Regions from separate parts of the Homo sapiens genome. Here region 1 is linked to region 2. The links come from fine-mapping of genetic effects on gene expression. Tissue or cell type: whole blood. Region 2 holds a variant in brackets; the other region holds the start of a gene. All regions are shown on one strand. Distances are from middle to middle.

Region 1 (5,153 bases), 580 kb before region 2:
TACTTTTCTAAGAGTTCCACGATATGAACAATTTAATCCTCAAAGCCAACATCTGAGAAAGATACTACTATTCTTATCCCAATTTGACAGATGAGAAAACTAAGGCTCAGAGAGGCTTGTCTGCTGGTGATTTGTGTGTCTGGGAAGTGCACGTTGTCTGGCAGGCTTGCCTGGCAGAAGCGGTTCATGACAGGTCTTCTCCATTTTGGAATCAAGATCTGTGTCAGCATGGATGGCAAGGGGAAGAGTAAGGAAAGATTGGTCTAGGAGATGCCCAGGAGCTTTTGGCCTCACAGTGCAGGGTGGGGAGAGCAGACCTGGCCACCAAGGACCAGTTTCTGGGCTTGGGCAGAAGCCAATCATCTGGCTACTTTACAAGCAGATGGAGCTTCTTCCTCTCAGTAACCTTCCTGCCCTGGTGTCAATTCCATTTTCATTTTCATCTTTTATGGTACTGGTTGTGTGGAGAAAACTGAAGGCTCATTTGGTATAAGTAAGTAACTCATTTTTATGAGTTTGCTTGACATAGATACTAGACTGTATGTGTGTATATATACATATAAACATGCATATGTACATAAAAAATATATATATATCATATATACATGATGATACACACACACACACACACACACACACACACACATATATATATATACGTATACAAGCATGCTTTACAAGGCCAATTGACTGGTCTACAATTGGCTGACACTTGGTGGCCTAGAAGCCAGGGTATGTGAGTCTCGCTTTTCTAGAAAGCTGACAAACTCTCCAGTTCCAAGGATCCTTGCTCAGTCAACGGCTGGAAGTCATTTTTACTTCGCTGTTTTTTGTTTGTTTGTTTGTTTGTTTTTTTAGACAAAGTCTCATTCTGTCACCCAGGCTAGAGTGCAGTGGCACTATCATGGCTCACTGCAATCTCCACCTCCTGGGCTCAAGCGATCCTCCCACCTCAGCCACCCGAGTAACTGGGACTACAGGTGCACACCACCATGCCTGGCTAATTTTTGTATTTTTTTAGAGACAAGGTTTTGCCATGTTGCCCGGGTTGGTCTCAAACCCCTGAGCACAAGTGATCCTCCTGCCTCGGCCTCTACAAAGTGCTGGAATTACAGGTGTGAGCCACTGCACTCGATCCATTCTTACTTACTTTCTTTACTTTATTTCCAAGCAAATGTTTGGAGGGAAACCAAGAGACTTGGATGCGGCCAGCCGAGGCCTTTGGGTTTACAATCACAAATGTTTTTGGTTTGCCCATGAAGGCCCAGGCTGCACTCTCTGATGTCACAGGAATCACCTCTCAAACCATGCACCAGGTCTTGAATTCCCTTAGGGTGTGATCTTTAGAGGTCCATCTAGGTATACCCACCCAAGCCATTCTTTGACTGCTGACAGGCCTTCCTTCATAACAAGGTGTTCCACAGTCCATTTATATATGGATGTCATCTCTGCCCACCCTGCTGCCAATTTGGTTTTCTCCCACTCCTGGGGTGTAAGGCAAGATGAAACATATCACATCCCGTTCTAAACTTTATTCTTGTGGCCAGGGGTCAGCAAACTTTTTCTGTAAAGGGCCAGATGGCAAATATCTTAGGTTTTACAGGCCAAGAAGCAAATTTGGCATATTATGTAGCTACTTATATAGTAAAATAAAAATTTCCACAATTATGTAATTGATGAAACTCAAAATGTAATAATAATAATCGAAGGCAGTTTTTTTGTAGTATAGGTTTAATAATGAGAAGAATGGAATCATTTTTGGAGGTGCTAACATTCTGCTTGGTTGGAATTTAAAGTTAGTGTTCTGTATCAGCAAATCCATTGCCAATGTTCATCTAAAAATGTTTTCACTTCTGGGCCGGATTTCGTTCAAAGGCTGCAGTTTGCTGACCTCTGCTCTTGGTTACACCTTTTGAGGCCCTTGCTCTCCGAGCATAAAATGGAATCCATTTATCAGACTAAATCGGGAAGATTAAATTTTCCAGCCTCACGAATGCTCAGCCATTGACTCACTCGTTCATACAATGAACACTCATTGAGCTTATACTACATGCCAGGTGCTGGAGGAGGCATGGGGCGCCCAGGAGAAAGATGCTCGCTTTGCGGCCACAGCCCAGTGGGAGGGAGACCCATACCTACCGGTGCTGTCTCAGAAACTTGTGGAACAAAGATGAAGCAATGTTCATGTTATTCGCCTACATCTGTGAATTACACAAGGAAGACGAGTTTGAGAAATCCGAAGTTCAGTACAAATTTATGGTAACTTTTTTAAAAAAGAATACACTGAAGTTTTCTTAGTGAATGGAATAATGTTCCCTTTTTCTCCCCTGTACACACAAATACACAAAAACTAACAAAAATACGTCGTGTGTGTCTGATTTGGGTTGTATTTAAATCATTTCATAAATGACTTTTTCCCATAACTTCAGTTTCAAAGTTTTAAAGCACAGTCAATTAATGATTTGGCAACAGCTAAGAAATCACAAGTTCCCTTCTTTTCATGTAAACTTCTGTAAAACACACGCTACGTTCTGCTGATGGTAAATAGAGCCATTTCAGGAAGTTAGCCAGTTTCTCTTCTCGGCCACCTCCTGCATAGAGGGTACCATTCTGCGCTGCTGCAAGTTACGGAATGAAAAATTAGAACAACAGAAACATGGTAAGCCACTTCTATTTCTTTAGCAAAGCTTTCCAACAGAATATGGGGTTTCTGACCCAGAAATCTGGGTTGGTGGCAAATGGTGTGAGCCTAGAAAGTAATAAATGGGCAAATAAGGATAAAAATTAAAGATCGAAACAACTGTAAATGCAGGTAAAGCGGCTTGCTATGATCTTTAATTTGTGCACACGTTAGTATAAAGGAATTAGAGAGTAAATTTTGAAAATCAAATGCAGTGATGATCTTACTAATTTGGACAGGAAAATAAGAAAATTTCAAGTTAGAAATTGAACTGGAAATATTACTTACTGGCCCTACCAGAGACAATATCCTCTTCCAGAACAACAGGGTTGGAAGAGAAGGTGAGGGAAATATTCTTCCTTTGCTATTTCTGTAGAAAAGGACAAACTCTCTTCCTTCACATACATAGGTCAATTGCTAGATCCTAGTGAAGCCTGAGCTTAACCTACTGTTGGAGGCTTAAAGTTCGACATTAATTGCTACTTTTCTTGGTCAGAGTTTTAAATAATTAGGTTGGTACAAAAAACTGTGATTACTTTTCCACCAACCTAATAACATGCTACAATTTCTGTAATTATTATTTTACACTGTCAAGACATAGCAGGTGGTCCGTTTTTGTTATTGTCAAGAACTGTCAGACTAAAAATGAACTTTACACTTCTTTTTAAATGATACATTTTCTAGAAAATTCAATGAGGTTTAAGAGCAATTGAAAAGTCTGATTTCAAGAGAGTCTCATCCAAAATGTACTATATATTTTTCCCCAAAGTCCTTGGAGTTAATTTTGACAACAATTTAAAGTACACTTAAGTCTTTTGAAGTTAATGGGTCTGCCACCCAGGTTGGAGTGCAGTGGCGTGATCTCAGCTCACTGCAACCTCCGCCTCCCGGGTTCAAGCGATTCTCCTGCCTCAACCTCCCAAGTAGCTGGGACTACAGGTGTGTGCCACCACGCCTGGCTAATTTTTGTATTTTTAGTAGAGACGGGGTTTCTCCATGTTGGCCAGGCTGGTCTCGAACTCCTGACCTCAGGTGATCCGCCTGTCTCAGCCTCCCAAAGTGCTGGGATTACAGGCATGAGCCACCGCGCCCGGCCTGAAGTTAATTTTTATACCCACCTAATGTTCATTATGGATCTTGAAGGTAAATTAATTCTGCACTAAAATTTTACAATGCTTTACAAAATGACTGTAGGTGGCCCATATGGAATTCGGTCAACTGGGCCAATGACACATATGGGATTGCAGTTGAAATTATCCAATTCCTACTTGATATTTGTAAGCTGCTGTGATAGCCAGTATAATTGTACTGTAAGAATGTGGTAAATAGCCGGGGCCCGGTGGCTCACGCCTATAATCCCAGCACTTTGGGAAGCCGACGTGGGCGGATCACTTGAGGTCAGTAGGTAGAGACCAGCCCGGTCAACACGGCAAAACCTCGTCTCTACTAAAAATACAAAAATTAGCCAGGTGTGGTGGTACGCACCTGTAGTCCCAGCTACTCAGGAGGCTGAGGCAGGAGAATCGCTTGAGCCCATGAGGTGGATGTTGCAGTGAGCAAAGATCGCACCATTGTACTCCAGCCTGGGCAACGGAGTAAGACTCTGTTTCAAAACAACAACAACAACAACAACAACAGATTGGTAAATAGAGTAATAATAAAATCAAATTAAACTTGCAAAAAATGGCCACTTTGCTCCCACTGGTGGCCAATGGAGGTCAAGGACCTGGCTGACCTCCTGCCTAAAGGCAGAGGTTGTTAGCCTTCGCAATGGACTCAAATCAGAGGGGGAGCTTTCAAAACTCCTGCTGCCCAGACTGAACCCCAGATCAATGAAACCAAAATCTCTGGATACAGGGCTTGGCATTTGTAGCTTTTAGAGTTCCTAAGTATCTCTACTGTGCAGCCAAAGTTAAGAATCAGTGCCTTAGAACATCAACAGTTTTTTGGTCCTTTTGTTAAAAAGCACAGTCCGTTTTTTTAGGTGGCTAGAAATGCTCCAGGAAGAGCTGAAATGTATTTACCAGCCACCTTGGTTTGATTTTAGAAAGCAAAATAGAAGTTCTAAGTATGCTTTCTCTGAAAAGCTGAGACTGCAGATAAGAGTGAGGGCAGTTGATGGAGTTCATTCTCCTCTTTCAATCACTGCTTCTCATCCTTTCATTATAATAATCTAAGAATCTCAGAGATTATGAAAGAGAAAGCAGTCTTATGGAAGACCCCAGACTCACAGAATATTAGGGTGTGTTTCACAGGGAAGGATGTCATTACCCACAGTTAGTCTTTGAAACGCAGTTGGACATTATTTGTAAGTGCATCATAGTGTCGCCTCCAGGTTCCATTGAGGGGAACGTCATTCCAATGCAACATCTCTGAGTTCATCTGGGTTATTAAATGGGGTTGAGGGATTTGTTATTTTTAAATTAGTAGCCCCAATTTAGGACTACTCAAGACCATAGGACAAGCCTGTCCA
Region 2 (5,153 bases):
AAAAAAATACATTCCTCAGGGATTCTGCCGGCAACCACTCCTTTTATTCTGTGGTTCCCCAAAGATAAGGTCAGTCAGCTCAGAGAGGAAAGGAAAATGGAATGGGGAGAGACAGGATCAACCAGTAACGGGTGTGTCATCTCAAACTGGAGTGTGTGTCCATTGTCAACCCCAAGAAACCCAGAAAAACAAAATCTTTTTCCCCAGGTGGTGAGAGTGTCAACTGCATATGAGAGGGAAGGGTGCCCTCTGCTGTCATCTGTGATTTTTGGTTTTTAATTTCAAAGGAAACGTTCCAGCTCCATGTAAATCAGACTTAAACATTTTTGCCAGGCACGGTGGCTCAGGCCTGTAATCCCAGCACTTAGGGAGGCTGAGGCGGGCAAATCACAAGGTCGGGAGTTCAAGACCAGCCTGGCCAATATGGTGAAACCCCATCTCTACTAAAAATACAAAAATTAGCTGGGCATGGTTGTGGGCACCTGTAATCCCAGCTACTTGGGAGGCTGAGGAAGGAGAATCGCTTGAACCCGGGAGGCAGAGGTTGCAGTTAGCCAAGATTGTGCCACTGTACTCCAGCCTGGGCGACAGAGCGAGACTCCATCTCCAAACAAACAAACAAAAAACAAAAAAGGAAACATTTTACACATTAAATAGGGAAGCCAAACTTGGGATTTTGACCGTCTTAACTAGGCTGGGTTCTGTGTCGGATGAGAGAGACTTGAGGGATAGCACAGGCAGCAATCACAATTCCATTTCAGATGTCCTGCTGAGAGAAAATTGTGGTTTGGAAGAGGGCCTGTGAGCTTTATATATTCAGGACAATTTGCTTAGAAATAAAACGACTTCTTGGGAGCAGGGTTCTCCTTGGGTGGCAGCATACTTGGACAGCATCTCCATTTGTTTCCCTGTCCTTTCCCAGTAAACCAATTTGGGTTCATTATTAGATTCCTGAGTTTGTTTCTTTGGGAAAGAAAAATAAAATACAGTTCTCACTTAGGGAGATGGAAGGCAATGGCTTTGCATGAAGATACGAATTTAAAACAAATAAATACAAGTGTTCAACTCTGATGAAAGATGAGTTGTATGATTTAATGTGCTTTCCTAGGGACATGTAAATTAACTGAGATATAAAATAATGAATCTGCACATCTGCCTTAGAGTTCATCCAAATGCAATCTACAAGGCAAACTTAATCACGGTTATAATTAATACTTTGCAAATGGAAATGACTGGAAATGAAAGGCCGCAAACAACATCGATATTAATGCTTCAGTATTTGTTCTCTCCCTAGTTTTTACTTTCAAAAGTGTTTTTATCATCTTCTACAAAAGTCATACCTTGTACTTTATAAGGCATTTTGTTATATAGCCTCTTTATAGCTGAATTCATCCCATTATCAAAGGGTCATAGTTGGATTACCTACCTACTTAGATGTTTCTAAACATTTCTGATTTCATTTTGCATTCTAGCAACCGGCTGACTCCACCCGAACTCGGGACTCATGACTCAACCAGTCCTTTGGCCCCCACCCAGAGGCAGGCTTAGCTCACAAGGACTATTTTCCACACCCCTATGATTTTATCATTAACTAATCAGCAGCACCCATTCCCCAGCCCTCTGCCCACCAAATTATTCATAAAAACGCTACCATCTGAATTCTTGGGGAGGCTGATTTAAATAATAACTCCAATCCTTCTGCTTCGCTAGCTCTGCATTAATTAAACACTTTGCTGAAAAAAAAAATCTGGTTTCAAACATCTATCACTTGAACCCTTTTGGATTTAAGTAACGGAACCCAACTTGACCAAGGGAGGATTTATCTGCCTATGTTAATCAACATTAAGGTCAGAAGTGCAGCTAGATCTCAGAGAGGACAGGAATCAAGAGGCTAAATTGCATCAAAGTTTTCTCCATCTTTCATCAGTGCTAATTTCATTCTCTTTTCTCTTGAGATTGGCTTTTCCTATGAGAAAGAAACCATGGCTGCTGGCCACTTTTGGGTTCATATTTCCCCACCTCCATCTTCCAAAAGAAAAAAGGATGCCTTCTCTTAAATCCTATGTTTTAAATCCCAAGGAAAGTTTCCGATTGCCTTTGCCTAGGTTATGAGTTCATATATGTGGCCAGGGTGGATGGGGTACTAAGATGGACAATTAGAAGAAAGTAGACCTGTATAGACAAAATAATAGAACTTTCTTTCATGGGGCTTTTCTTGTGTGTCAGGCACTGTGGTAAGCATTTTTTCATTTTTTGTACATAATTTCCTTTAATTCCCCAAACAATCCTACAAGAAAAGTGTTATTATTAGATTCTGGAATTGAGATTCAGAGTTTAGCAACTTGTCCAAATTTGCACAGCTGGCAAATTGCAGAACTAAACCCATCCCATTTGTCTGATGATGTATGTTGGTTTCTGCTATAGAAAAAATGATTTCTGGAGTTCTGGTCAAGATTACATGCAACCTATTTGTACGCAAATCCTGAATATAAAAATTCTGTTTTTGAATTGAGGACAAATAAGCTATGATCCATACTTTCTTCAGCATAAGGGCTGAGTTTTGTTCAGTTTTGTTTTCCTTTTAACATCTCATCTAATGCCTTGGACATAGTAGTTGCCAAGTAAAAATGATTTTTAGGGTACAGTGAAAGGCCTTCTAACTACAACTAAAAATGCGGATGTAAGAAAAGATTAATAAATTTGACAACATAAAAATTAAAATATTTTTTGCACAGCAAAAAATGATGTAAAGAAAATCAAAAGACAAAGCGCAAGAAGAAGCTCTTCTTGCCCTATGAGGAGAAGCTTGCCCTGGGAGAAGCAATTTACAACAAATCTTACAGCTAAGGAGCTAAAATTCCTACCATGCAAAGGACTTTTTTAGTTGACTTTTAAAAGGCCAAAAATGCTACAGAAAAATGTGCAAAAGTCCTGAGCAGACAATTCGCAAAAAGAGATGTAAAAATGACTCTTAAACTTACAAAAAGATGCTCAGCTTCATTCATAACAAAAGAAATGCAAACTAAAACTACACTGCGACACCATTCTCAGCTATCAGAGTGGCAACAACTCAAACCTGACAACATGTTCTGTTGTTAAACTGTGGGGAAATAAGCACTCTCATTGCTAGAGGAAATGCAAAACTGTGCAATATCTATGTAGGGATA[T/G]TTGGCAATATCTAACAAAACCACATATCCATTTACCCTTCCACCTAGCAATGCCACTTGTAGAAATTTACACTGCAATACACCTCTAACGATATTAAAATGCATATGCAAAATGTTATTTATTGCAGTAATATTTGTCAAAGCATAGGACATTGGTTAATCAACTATGGTGCATCCACACAGTGGAATACTATGCAGCTAAATTAAAATCACCAATGAAGGGCAGCTAAATTAAAATATGGTATGCCTCCAGATGTGTTACCCTGAAAAAGATACAATATCATCTATATGATATTCTGCCCAAGAATGCATAACATCTTCAGATTTTCATATCTGTGAGTACAGGACCCTCCTTTCCCTGTGGATCCCAAAGCAATACCTGGAGGGCTTAGGGAGGGGCACCTTGTTTGTATAAAAGAGAACCTGCCTGTACTGCAGTCTACCCCATTCTTAATAAAAGAAACTCCAAGCTTCCAGTTGTTCGGGCTAAAAGCTTTTGCTCCTCAAGATTCAATATCTCCTTCTTTTATATTTTTAAAAATTATTTTATTTTTATTTTTCTTCAAGACAGGGGCTAGCTCTGTCACCCAGGCTGGAGTGCAGTGGCATGATCATAGCTCACTGCAACCTTGAACTTCTGGGTTGAAGTGATCCTCCCGCCTCAGCCTTCCTGAGTTGCTGGGACTACAGGCACGTACCACCAAGCCTGGTTAATTTTTAAAAATGTTTTATAGAGATGGGAGTCTCATTATATTGCCCAGGCTGTTCTCGAGCTCCTAGCCTCAAGCAATCCTCCCGCCTTGGCCTCCCAAACTGCTGGGATTACAAGCGTAAACCACCAAGCCCAGCCAGTATTTCCTTCTTGATAAATTGTAAGAAAAATATAGAGGACTTACTCTTTGTATATCAACATTTGTCTCAGAGGCCCTCTGCTCAGGCACCTCAGGTTTTGGGGAAATAGGAAGAGGATCAGAGGATAAGCAGATTAACACCTACCCCAATCCAAATGTTGGGACTGTACAGCTGGTAACGCTTACGAATATGATATCTTAATAAATTATTAGTTTTGAAGCCCACACTAGAAACCCCTCATTCATTTTTGTAGAGCCAGAAGCACCATTAGATAGTGATAGAGCCCATACTTCCCCTCACCTTTCACTCACCAGCACTCAGTCTCATGGCTACACCTAACTGCAAAGGAAGCTGGGAGATGTAGTCTGGTCATGTGTCCAAGAGAGGAAAGGAAATGGTTTGGTGAACAACTAGCCAGTCTCTGCCACTTTGATAGTAGACTACAAAGAATGTCTTCCCTTTCACTAGTATGAATCTATTATTATTAAATATCAAAACTTATTCTTTATATTTTTAAAATTATGATGGTTTTTTAAAAATGTATTAAATGGGTAACCTACATGAAACTCCTAATGGTGCAGAAAACCCATTAAGTAAACTATAGCTGCCAAACTTTGAGTAACATGGCAGAAAAGTCATATCAAGACATTTCTCAGAAATTTTCCTAGGTAATGGTAATTGAGAGACTGTAGATAGCAGGCTGGTTTCTCCATAAGGAGCAAAATTAAGTGTTGCTGAAGCAATTCTGAAGTTCTAGCTGATAATAACTGCACACCAGCTGTTCCCATTTTATAATACTTTTCCATAAAGCCCCATATTTTAGCTTTTGCCTTTTTTTTTTTTTTTTGAGACAGGGTCTCACTGTGTCACCCAGGCTGGAGTGCAGTGGCACTATCTTGGCTCACTGCAACCTCTGCCCCCAGTTTCAAGTGATCCTCCCACCTCAGCCTCCCCGAGCAGCTGGGACTAGGGGCGCATGCCACCACGCCCAGCTAACTTTTCTATTTTTTAGTAGAGAAGGGGTTTCACCATGTTGGCCAGGCTGGTCTCAAACTCCTGACCTCAAGTGATCTGCCCGCCTCAGCCTCCCAAAGTGCTGGGATTACAGGCATGAGCCACCACGCCCGGCCTTAA

The links. PIP is the estimated chance that this variant, and not a neighbour inherited with it, causes the effect.
Region 1: it holds the start of TLR8, and the variant in region 2 is fine-mapped to the expression of TLR8 in whole blood (TOPMed, PIP above 0.99).

Annotation. Positions count from the first base shown.
Region 1 is chrX:12,904,051-12,909,203 of GRCh38, forward strand. It overlaps TLR8 (toll like receptor 8), which reads left to right and starts at 2,570. Exons shown (of 2, transcript NM_138636.5): 1 at 2,570-2,659. The coding sequence starts at 2,657. It overlaps TLR8-AS1 (TLR8 antisense RNA 1), which reads right to left. Exons shown (of 5, transcript NR_030727.1): 3 at 4,166-4,283; 4 at 2,140-2,201.
Region 2 is chrX:13,488,123-13,493,275 of GRCh38, forward strand. No RefSeq gene overlaps it. Among named protein-coding and RNA genes, the nearest start is that of EGFL6, 79 kb to the right of the region's middle. The variant T/G (reference allele first, on the strand shown) is at 3,168.